Homo sapiens: one gene and its partner. The protein of the gene in region 2 purifies or fractionates together with the protein of the main gene of each other region. This does not show direct contact. Each region holds a gene or a part of one and is shown on either strand. Other genes may lie near its edges.

What was found.
Region 1: the proteins of CTSB (region 2) and COLGALT1 purify together in Homo sapiens (affinity purification with mass spectrometry; 2 studies listed by BioGRID, with this or other methods). This does not show direct contact.

Annotation. Positions count from the first base shown.
Region 1 is NC_000019.10:17,579,567-17,583,860, reverse strand, and holds the end of COLGALT1 (procollagen galactosyltransferase 1 precursor), read right to left. Parts: coding exon 4,252-4,294; intron 3,163-4,251; coding exon 2,956-3,162; intron 2,685-2,955; coding exon 2,417-2,684; 3' UTR 704-2,416; downstream 1-703. UniProt on the Homo sapiens protein: Beta-galactosyltransferase that transfers beta-galactose to hydroxylysine residues of type I collagen. By acting on collagen glycosylation, facilitates the formation of collagen triple helix. Also involved in the biosynthesis of collagen type IV.
Region 2 is NC_000008.11:11,857,803-11,865,087, forward strand, and holds part of CTSB (cathepsin B isoform 1 preproprotein), read right to left. Parts: intron 6,682-7,285; exon of another isoform or gene 6,574-6,681; intron 4,677-6,573; exon of another isoform or gene 4,543-4,676; intron 3,678-4,542; exon of another isoform or gene 3,559-3,677; intron 139-3,558; exon of another isoform or gene 56-138; intron 1-55. UniProt on the Homo sapiens protein: Thiol protease which is believed to participate in intracellular degradation and turnover of proteins. Cleaves matrix extracellular phosphoglycoprotein MEPE. Involved in the solubilization of cross-linked TG/thyroglobulin in the thyroid follicle lumen.

The DNA of each region.
Region 1 (4,294 bases), on a different chromosome or scaffold from region 2:
CTCAGGTGATCCACCCACCTTGGCCTCCCAAAGTGCTGGGATTACAGGCGTGAACCACCATGCCCAGCCCTAATCCTCATGTTGAGGTCTGTTTTAGGGGGACTCAAAGCACGACAGCCCCTCTTTATTCGAAGTCATGTGGAAGGATCCTGAAGTTGACTCAAGACAGAGCTGTCGGTCCCCCGCCTGTTTGGGGGAAGTTTTATGGCATGAGGGGACACAGGGCTCTTACCACACCCTCACCCCACAGTAGCTCCACTGGCCAGCTTTTTTTTTTTTTTTTTGGTTTGATTGTGTCTTGCTCTGCCGCCCAGGCTGGAGGGCAGTGGCTCAATCTTGGGTCACTGCAACCTCCACCTCCCAGGTTCAAGCGATTCTCCTGCCTCAGCCTCCCAAGTAGCGAGGATTACAGGTACCCCCCCCCCGCCACCCCGCCCCACTACACTAGGCTAATTTTTGTACTTTTAATAGAGAGGGGGTTTCACCATGTTGGCCAGGCTGGTCTTGAATTCCTGACCTCAAGTGATCCGCCCACCTTAGCCTCCCAAAGCACCGGGATTACAGGCATGAGCCACCATGCCAGGCCCCACTGGGCAGCTTCCCTACTGCACCTGCCCTGGTTTCCTCCCAAATCTTGTCGGCCATCCAGGGGTGGGGAACGTGGGCAGTGTTTTGGTGCCGAGCAAAATCCCACAAACTGCTGTGAAAACCAACCAGGAACATTTATTAAAAAACTAAGCAAGTTATCCCCAAGAGGGTGAAGCACCGCTGGCTGGTTCTGACATTCGATTCAGGCTGAAGGCACGGCAACTCCTCCAGCCCTTGCTGGGAAATGTCCTACCCAGGCCACGGGCAGTGCCCCAGTGCAGCTGGGTCCCCTAAAAGCCCCCAAACACATGATCCCACCAAAGGCTTGAACAGAGCAACTTCATCAAGCAGGCAGGGACCACACCTGAGACACAAGGGCAAGGAGGTAAAGCACAGGGGACCGGGAGTGGGCCAGGGACACCCAGCCCCCGTCTCCAACTGGCGCCCCCTCCAGGGGGGCTAACATGTGGCGTGGGGCCACCAGGACCTGTGCTTGCCCCTGGTGGCGGAAGAGCTACCCTCCCTCTTGGGTGGTGGGGGGATGTTGTCTGCACACAGCTCAGACGACCGAGGGTACAGGAAGAATCAAACTCAGTCAACCATTCTTCAACCCAACTGGGAGTCTGTGAGGCCTGGCACACAGGTGCTCAATAAACACTTGTGGCATGAAGAAGTGAAGGAACCGATCTTGTTCATCTCTGTGCCCCAGCACTCGGCATGTAGCCCATGATCGAAAATGCAGACTGAACAACTGTCACACTCTTTTGTATCACTAGTGCCCGGCACACAGTCAGTGCTCTTCAGGTGTGTGGGAAAGAAGCCAATGAGTGAGAAGTTCCCACACCGTCTAGCAGTGAGGAAAAAAAGAAAAAAGTAAAAAGTACCTTGTTTACTCCCATTCCCATCCCATAGCTCAGCTCCCTGCACACAGCAGGTGCTCAGTAAGTGTACCGAATCAGGAACTTATCTTTGTGACATGAGTGCCAGGCACACAGTAGGTGACCAATATGTGCTTGAATAAATGGATAGAAGCATCTTATTTATCTCAATATTCCCAGAGCCTGGGCTGGGCACAGTGGCTCATGCCTGTAACCCTAGCACTTTGGGTGGCCAAGGCGGGCAGATCACTTGAGGTCAGGAGTTCGAGACCAGCCTGGCCAACATGGTGAAACCCCGTCTCTACTAAAAATACAAAAACTAGCCAGATGTGATGGCACGCACCTATAGTCCCAGCTACTTGGGAGGCCGAGAAACAAGAATTGCTGGACGCTGGGAGGCGCAGGCTGCAGTGAGCCGTCACACCACTGCACTCCAGCCTGGGTGACAGAGACAGACTCTACTCTTAAAAAAAAAAAAAAAAAAATCCCAGAGCCTGGAATGGCACCCAACACACAGTAGGCACTCAATAAATCCTTGAATGAATTTTAAAAATGAATGTGTATCACTAGTGCCTGATTCTTAATCTGATCAGTAACTGCTTGATGACTGAATCAATCGCTGATGGAGGGAACAATTATGCCTCATTCACTGCCGTAACATGGGAACCTTGCATACAGCAGGTGCTTAATAAATGCTGGGCACATGAACAGATGAAGAGGGCTTGGTTCCTCCCAATTCCCCAGGGCCAAGCCCTGTTGCTGGCATGCAGTAGGCACTCCATTAATGCTGCCTGTGTGCACGTGATTGCTTAGCAAGAGCTGGCTGGACACCACCCCACACGAGAGCCCTCTGTGGCCTGCCAAGGGGTCCAGAGGTGGACCTGATGTCCTCAGTAAGCACGTGGAGCCTGGGCCACCGATGGCTGCTTTGGCTTTCTGGCTGCTACCCCTCAGAGTTCATCCCGGGCAGCACTGTCCAGTGGGGACTGGAGCACGTCCGAGTTCTTGGCCTCACGGCTCAGTGCCTGCTGCTCCCGCATCTTCTGGGACTTGGCGCGGTCCCAGTCGGTCTTGACGTGCTCATTGTTCCATACGACTGAGGTCTCGGTGTCACTCACATAGCCATCGTCTCCTGTGTAGTGTGTGGGGTAGATGAGCAGCGGCTCCACAGAGAAGGCATGCAGGTTGCGGAGGGAGAAGTGGGCCTTGTACTCGGACCTGGGGGGAGGAGGAGGGGAGTGAGGGGCAGCAATGGCTTCAGGGGACGGGACAGCTGGAGGAAAAATTGGGGGTGAAGAAGTCAGCGGGGACAGATTAAAACGTAAGTGTGCAGGGGATACAAATGGAGACAGATCTGCGAGGGGGCAAACGGAGGGAGAAGTAGGCAAAAGAAGAGACATCTTCTCGGAGGCCGTGAGTCTCACATCCCCATTCTCCCAGGACAGACCCACCGTGAAACCCCAGCCCAGCAGCCGCCTGCCCCTCTCACACTGGGTGTTTGTCGAACATGACGGGCAGGAACTCGTCCACAGGCAGCATCTTGGAGAGCGGCTCAGCAGCCAGCAGTTTGCGGGCGCCTTGCAGGGAGATCACGTAGGCCAGGGTCCAGTAGGAATAGTCGGCCTCCACCAGGTTCCTCACGCGAGGCACAGCCTTCTCGGGGTGCTCCACCTGCATCCGCTTCCGGCCCACATAGCTGGGGTGCAAGATCGGGCCTGTCACTCTCCTCCCGCCCTCCGGAGGGAGCTTGCCCAGAAAGCCAGGGATCTAGTTACCCCGTCAGGTCCTGGGATGGGAGCAGGCTCAGCATGTTTGCAGAGCTCTGTGACTGGATGGAGTGAATGCAGGAGCCCAGGGGTCTGGCGGTCATGGGGGAGAAGAGTGAGTTTTTCCAAAGGGCGTGAGGGAGCCATGGAGGATCTGGAGCTGGGGAGAGCAGGATCACGCAGACGTTCTCTGAGGCTGAAGCTGCTCTGAGTTCAGAGGACAGTGGGGGTGGAGGTGGGCGAGGTGCCCTGATGGGGGGGCAGTCAGGAATGGAGGGGTGCAGTTACTATTCACATGGGGCAGTGTTCCCAGAATGCAGATTAGGGCACTGCACATGGAAGGGAAAAAAGAGATGGAGGAAGGGAGAGGACAAACCAGCCCACTTACAGAAGAGAAGGACGGCTCCAGTGCTGGAAACATGTTGGTGGCACTCCCATCCAGGGGCTTGTCTAAGACCAGGCGCCCTGGCCACGCCCCCACACTCTTCGGCCACACCTCCAGCTCTGACCACACCCCCATGCTCTTCAGCCACGCCCACAGGCTGCCCGGTCAAATTTTAGCCACATCCACCTCCACAGGCCTCAGTCAAGTCTCTAAGCCTTGACCAAGCCTGCAGGCTTCCGGCCAGGTCCCTTGAGTTCTGGGTGATCCTTCCAACGCCCTTCCCTATAGGCTACAGCCCTGACAGTGCCTTCAGGCCCAGGAACCACGTGAGCCCTCCTGCTACGCTTCCAAGGGTTGGCCACGCCTGCCACCCTGACCACACCCAGACATACAGGCTCTAGGCTCAGCTGCAGCGCTGTGGCCACGCCCGTAGGATTCAGCTCCACTCCGCCTCCCAGCCCCACCTCTAAGCCCTGGCCATGTACCTAGGCTCCAGTTCCACCCCACCTTCAAGCCCCGCCTCTAAGCCATGACCCATCCCCAGGTCCCAGCTCCACCCTGCCCCCACCCCCACCTCTAAGTCCTGGCCTTGCCCCAGGCCCCAGCTTCACCCCATCCTCAGACCCCCACTCACATGAGGTCCCAGTCCAGGCCCTCCCGCTCCACATCCCGCATGA
Region 2 (7,285 bases):
CAGCCCATTCCACTAGTCCCAGGCTGAGCGCTGGGAAGTTCTTTCAGCCCCGCACCTTGGCCCAGGGCTGTGGTGTTCCTGGCTTCTCTGCTCCTCCCCTATGGTATCCAGGTTGGGGCTCAAGGGGCCGCCAGCGTGCTGCAACCGGACGATAAAATGAGCCCTGCACTTGGAGTCAGGAGACCTGCATTTGGATCTGGCTCTGCCACTGACTAAATGGCACCCTTGGGGTCTGACCTTCCCCAAGCCTCAGTTTCACCACCTATAAAATGGAGCTAGTAACCATCGTGTCTCAGGTGGCAGTCAAGAATGAAATGAGGAGGACCAAAGCGCCGGCACATGCCTGGCATGCAGTGATAAGGTAGGAAGGGCACTCGCTCCAGCGGGCTCTGTTCCCTCCCTCTCTCCTCTAACACTTCTAGCTCTCAGTTCACACTAAACCTATTCCAATAGGTCCCCAACGCCAGGAAGAGTCTAAATGAAAACAAGTTTGTTTTTTTTGTTTGTTTTAAGACAGGATCTCACTCTGTTGCCCAGGCTGGAGTGCAGTGGCACGATCATGGCTCACTGCAAACTCTGCCTCCTGGGCTCAAGAGATCTGCTCCCCTCAGCCTCCTAAGGAGCTGGGACTACAGGCATACACCACTACGCCCAGCTTTGTATTTTTTGTAGAGATGGGGTTTTGCTATGTTGCCCAGGCTGGTCTCAAACTCCTGGACTCAAGTGATCTGCCCGCCTTGGCCTCCCAAAGTGTCGGGATTATAGGTGTGAGCCACCATGCCCAGTAAAACAAGCTCTTAACTTCAATTAACCCCAGCATTTAACATCCAAAAATGCTTCCACTCTTGAGGGTCCCGAGACTGCTGAGAACTCAAAAAGTGTCAAGCCAAACACAGAGGTCCTGACAGCAGTGGCAATCTCACTCCATTGTGCAACAGGCGCCTTTCTCTCCACAACAACGCAAATCTCAATCACTCTGGACAAATGCAGATGGTGAAAGTGACAAGCTGAGCTGTTAACAGCTTTCCAGGGTCTTTGCATGGGACAGCAACCCATTTTCACTTCCCTTTATATAGGCACCCACTTCCCTTTTATTTCTTAATTCTGTGCTTTCTGCTCTGCTTCTTACAAGAGATGATGAACACAAAGTCCTTATTTCACGAGGGAAGGATGTGAACTCTTGTGTGCCACAAGACCCCTTTCCAGGATGCGGGCTGGTGGAAGAACAGCTGCGAGCAGATGTCATCTCTAGACCTTGGTCTGCTGTGCTGCTTAGGCAGACCTGAGTTCCAGTGCACCCCTCTGCCCCTTTTCCAAGCTAATCTTTGGGTTAAAAAAAACAGAAAAGGGTGCTCCTCATATCCTCTCTCTCCAAACCTGCAGAGCACTTATGAGAAAGCACGCTCCACCCCGGCTCTGTAGAACGTTGTTATGTGCCAAAAAGAGTGTGCGGCCAGGCGACTCTATCAACCAGAGCACCTTCCTCCCCCGGCAAACGGCACCCTAGACTACCTTGAAGCCGTTTCCAGGACAAATAGGGACCTTGCGATCCTGGAAGGAGGTGGAATGAAAGTCAAAGGAGAGGAGGTGCGGCTAAGTCACAGGAGGTGTTAAGTCCTGACACCCTTAAAGAATCAGTTTTGGGCTGCCACCAAGCTCAATAAAGAAGGCTTTCTGGCCAGGCACAGTGGCTCATGCCTGTAATCCCAGCGCTTTGGGAGGTCAAGGCAGGCGGATCACCTGAGGTCAGGAGTTCGAGACCAGCCTGTCTCTACTAAACAAGGTGAAACTCCTGTCTCTACTAAAAATACAAAAATTAGCCAGGCACGGTGGTGGGTGCCTGTAATCCCACCTACTTGGGAGGCTGAGGCAGGAGAATCACTTGAATCCAGGAAGCGGAGGTTGCAGTAAGCTGAGGTCACACCACTGCACTCCAGCCTGGGCAACAGAGCGAGACTCTGTCTCAAAAAAAAAAAAAAAAAAAAAAAAAGGCCGGACACAATGGCTCACGCATGTAATCCCAGCACTTTGGGAGGCTGAGGCAGGCGGATCACGAGGTCAGGAGTTCAAGACCAGCCTGGCCAACATGGTGAAACCCTGTCTCTACTAAAAATACAAAACTCAGCCGGGCATGGTGGTGCTGCCTGTAGTCCCAGCTACTCAGGAAGCTGAGGCAGGAAAATTGCTTGAACCCAGGAGGCAGAGGTTGCAGTGAGCCAAGATCACACCACTGCACTCCAGCCTGGGCGACAGAGCAACACTCTGTCTCAGAGAAAAAAAAAGAAAGAAAAAGCTTTCTTACATGGTCACAGAGCCCTCAGGTAGACTGCACTTTAAATCTGTAAAGGATTTAAGGAGACAGGATATGTACACTTAAAATTTCCAAATAAGCCAAGTTGCTAGCTCCTGGCTGATAGACAAAAAAAGTGAAAGAATTCTTAGCAAAGCTGTCATGCAGTATTTTGCTCTTCCTCATTCGTTGGTGCTGTGGCTATACTGCTGGCTCCTCTCATAGTCAGCTCTAAAGAATTGAAAGTTGGCCGGGCACAGTGGCACACACCTGTAATCCCAGCACTTTGGGAGGCCAAGGAGGTGGATCACCTGAGGTCAGGAGTTCGAGACCAGCCTGGCTAACATGGTGAAATCCCATTTCTACTAAAAATACAAAAAATTAGCCAGGCGTGGTGGTTGTGCACCTATAATCCCAACTACTCGGGAGGCTGAAGCAGGACAATTGCTTGAACCCAGGAGGTGGAGGCTGCAGTGGGCTGAGATCGCACCATTGCACTCCACCTTGGGCAACAAGAGGGAAACTCCGTCTCAAAAAAACAAAACAAAACAAAACAAAAACAAAAGTCAAGTGCTTACATTTTGCCAGAAGCCACAAATGAAGACTGTGCCTTATAGGCCAGCAGAGCGGCTAAGAGCACGGGAACAGTGGAAAGGTGGGGAGACTGTGAAGGCTCAGTAAGACCTTCCCAGAGTACTTTGTTTCTTTCTCTTCTATAAAAACTAGTCTTGGCACTCACCGCTAATAACGGCAGTTGCTCCTGAAGTTTTGACCACTTAAGTGCAACCACAAAACAAGACTTCGGCGAGTTTCATCTTCCCCTACTTCAACCTGCCAGACACACCTCAATGCTGGAGCAGCCCTGCACTGGGTGGGAGTGTGCTGACCTCAACTATGCTCTGTTGTGACCCAGAGACCTTTCCTTTTTGAGTATGAATCACAGCCTTGCTGTGGCCTCTGATGTGTTACGTCTTTGCCCCTAATGGAACTGTGTTTAGTAGATTCTTGGCTTATGATTAAATTAAGGACAAAAACAAAATCCAAAGGGCTCTCAGGCCTCGGTCTCATCAGTCCCCTGATGAACGGGCACCAGAGGCCCATCTGTCCCATGGAGCAGGCTCCCTGCAGCTGTAGCCCCGAAGCAACTGAAAACCTGTCAGAAAACCCACCCAGCACACAGGTGTGCAGAGGCAGCAGTGATGCTCACCAGCCTTGGAGGCTTCCAGGGAACCAGGGGAAGCAGAGAAGCCCCACTCCACCTCCCTCACCTGAACCAGGTTGGCCACTCACAGGTCCTTCCCCGTGCTGCCCACCTGCCAATCATCTATGCAAACCAGGTACTGCAGGCCCAGCCCACGCAAGCTGCTCTCCATAGGCCTGAAGACACCTATGAGTGGAATATTGTACAAGGTCAGCCACAGCAACCCCACATCCTGCAGACAAAATGACTACTGTACACTTGAAACAGCAGACACTACGAAGGCCCTCAGCAGTTATTTTTTGTTGTCGTTGTTGGTTGTAAACAAGACAATTTAGTCAATATTCTGGAAAGTTCTGAAAGCTTTTACTCCCCATTTCTGTTACTGACTTGCTCAGATGCTGACAGAGCCAATGCATTCACCACGTCTGCATCGGATACCAAAGGACCTTGGGCCTGCTTTATAAAAGCTTTTAGAGATCCTTTGAGATTGCAATGAGATTAGTGTTCTGCTCATTAGTGTTCTGCCTCTCCAGCTTGCAGAACACGGCGGTTCCCTAATTCAACCGCAGGCGAGATTACACCAGGGTAGTTGAGGCTGACGCGAAGGCCAGCCACAGAAAGGCCTAGCTCTGGGCCGGGCATGCTGGCTCACGCCTGTAATCCCAGTACTTTGGGAGGCTGAGGTGGGCGAATCACGAGGTCAGGAGATCGAGACCATCCTGGATAACACGGTGAAACCCCGTTTCTACTAAAAATACAAAAAAATAGCCAGGCATGGTGGCAGGCGCCTGTAGTCCCAGCTACTCGGGAGGCTGAGGCAGGAGAATGGCGTGAACCCGGGAGGCGGAGTTTGCAGTGAGCCGAGATCACGCCACTGCACTCCAGCCTGGGCGACAGAGTCAGACTCCATCTCAAAAAAAAAAAAAAAAAGAAAGGCCTAGCTCTTGGATCCAGCTAGGTCCTGTTTTCCTCCCTTGGGGCCCTGGGAACAGATACCCATCTCGCAAGGCTGATGGAAGATACAAGGAGACACTCTTTTGAAAGTGCCTACCCTGCACCAGGCTCAGAGCAGCGCCATCTGGGAGAAACTTCCTCAGTCACTGGGAGCGTGAAAAGCCATCTCCTTATACATAGGACAGCCAACGTTTGCATCCCAGAGTCATCATTTCTATTTTCAGAAGTATCCTAATTTGGATGAAAAATAATGGAAATTGTACTATCAGTGACAAGGCCTTAAAAGTTGATTTGTTCTGCTGTCTTGACTGCCAAAGCAAAGCATGTCCCAAACACCAGGAAGGCTGAGTGGGTTGGGAATGGGTGGCAGGTGGCCCCCAGCACTCTGATGTGGTTTGATGATACGCTTCCAACCCTCGAATGGGAAAAGCCTGTGGCTGGCACCGCCCTCCTGGGACTTGCGCAAGCCAGGAAGCTGTGTGACTGTGTGTGTGCACATTCTGCCAGAGTCCAGGTCAGCACGTCAGAGGGTCATGAGACAGCCCGGCCCTCCGGGCTCTTAGGGCAGAATATCTAGATGTCTTCTACAGGGCTCTCTACTGGTCCCGTTACCATCTTGGCCACATTGGGCCCATCCTTCTCCATGCATGCTTGCTGGTGATGCTAGATTATCTTGATGACCAGACCAAAGAAGTTACTGGCCTGGTAAAGACAGATAACACAGTCAAGACTGCCAGCCACACATCCTTCTCAGCACCCAGCATTTAGAAAACATCAGTTCTGGGCTGAGCACAGTGGCTCACATCTATAATTCTGACACTTCGGGAGGCCAAGGTGGGAAGATTGACTGAACCCAGGAGATTAAGACCAGCCTGGGCAGGATAGTGACCTCGTCTCTATATAGAAAATTAAAATTTAAAATAAAAAATAAATAGGCTAGCGGTGGCTCAGGCCTGTAATCTCAGCACTTAGGGAAGCCAAGACAGGCAGATCATGAGCTCAGGAGTTCAACACCAGCCCGACAAACATAGTGACATCCCGTCTCTACTAAAAATACAAAAATTAGCTGGGCGTGGTGGCACACGCCTGTAATCCCAGCTACTCAGGGGGCTGAGGCAGGAGAATCACTTGAACCCGGGAGGCGGAGGTTACAGTGAGCCGAGATTACACCACTGCACTCCAGCCTGGCGACACAGTGAGACTCCGTTTCAAAAAAAAAACAAAAAAACCCAGCAAATATGCCATCACTGACCAACAATAAAAACAGGAAAAGTGTCACTCAACCCATTTATGCCAGAGGTTGCAATTTTTTAAATTTTTGCACGAGTAAAAACATCAGACCTTGGCGATGACCTTGAGCAGTATGATGTAAAAACTCCCACATGCTTAGCGTTCTAATAATGGAACACTAGGCATAAGTGGGTTACTGTTGTCCTACAGCAAAGATTAAATTTGAATTTCTGGTCATGAAATTAAAACAGGGGTACCACTTCAAACCCATCAGATTGGCAAAAATCAAAGTCTGGTACTATCTAGTGTTGGTAAATGTGAGGAACAGGAACTCTGCACACTGCTGGGCGAGTAAATTGATGCAACCACACTGGAGAACCCTTTGCCAGCATCTAGCAAGATGGAAGATGAACACACCTCATGACCCAGAAACAAACTCTCCCACATGTGCCCTGCAGAAACTCTTCTAAGTATCTGGGAGACACAGGATATTTATTGTAGCATGGGATAATAGTGAACACGAAATAACATAACTGTCCCTCAGTAGATAAACACACTGGGCACTTAACACAAATGGACTAGAACTGGATGTAGCAACAGAAATAAATCTCACAACCGTGAGTGAAAAAGGATCCATGTAGTGTAACTGAAGTCATATAAACTTTAATAACATTGTTTATACACTGATGCAGAGTTTTAAAAGTACAAAAAGGCCTGGAGGTGACTCATGCCTTGTAATCCCAGCATTTGGAAGGCCTAAGTGGGAGGAGGCAAGGGGATCACTTGAAACCAGGAGTTTCAGAGCAGTCCTGGCAACAGTGAGACCCTGTCTCTACCAACGAAAAAAAAAAAAAAAAAAAAAAAAACCTGGGCACCGCCTGTGGTCCCAGCTACTTACTACTCGGGAGGCTGAGGTGGGAACCAGATCGCTTACATCTGGGTGGCTGAGGCTGCCGTGAGCCGTGGTCGCACCACTGCACACCAGCCTGGGAGACAAAGCAAGACCCTGTCATTAATCAAACAATAAATGAATGAATGCATGAACAAAAAAATGTGCAGAAGAATCCAAAAGAGGGGCAGCAGACAGGGAATACAATGGCCCTTGGAAGGATCAGGAAACAGGCACAGGAGTGGTCTACAGAGGCGGACGATAAGGCTTGAAACTAAAAAAGAGATTAGTTAAAAGTCTAAACACATGGCTGGGCACAGTGACTCACACCTGTAATCCCAACACTTTGGGAGGCGAGGCGGGCAGATCATTTGAGGTCTCTACTAAAAATACAAAAATTAGCCAGGCATGGTGGTGCATGCCTCTAATCCCAGCTACTCCGGAGGCTGAGGCAGGAACATTGCTTGAACCTGGGAGGTGAGGTTGCAGTGAGCTGAGATTGTGCCACGGCATTCCAGCCTGGGTGACAGAGTGAAACTGTCTCAAAAAAAAAAAGAAAGAAAAAAATGTCTAAACACAGAGTGGAATTTGATCCCTAAACCTCCTACCCCACACAAGCTAGGGTAAATATAAACATTAACAACCATGCCAGGGCGCAAGGTTTGCCTCCCACATGCTCTTTCTCAGGCAGCCTGGGACCAGACGTAGAGACTGCTGCCTG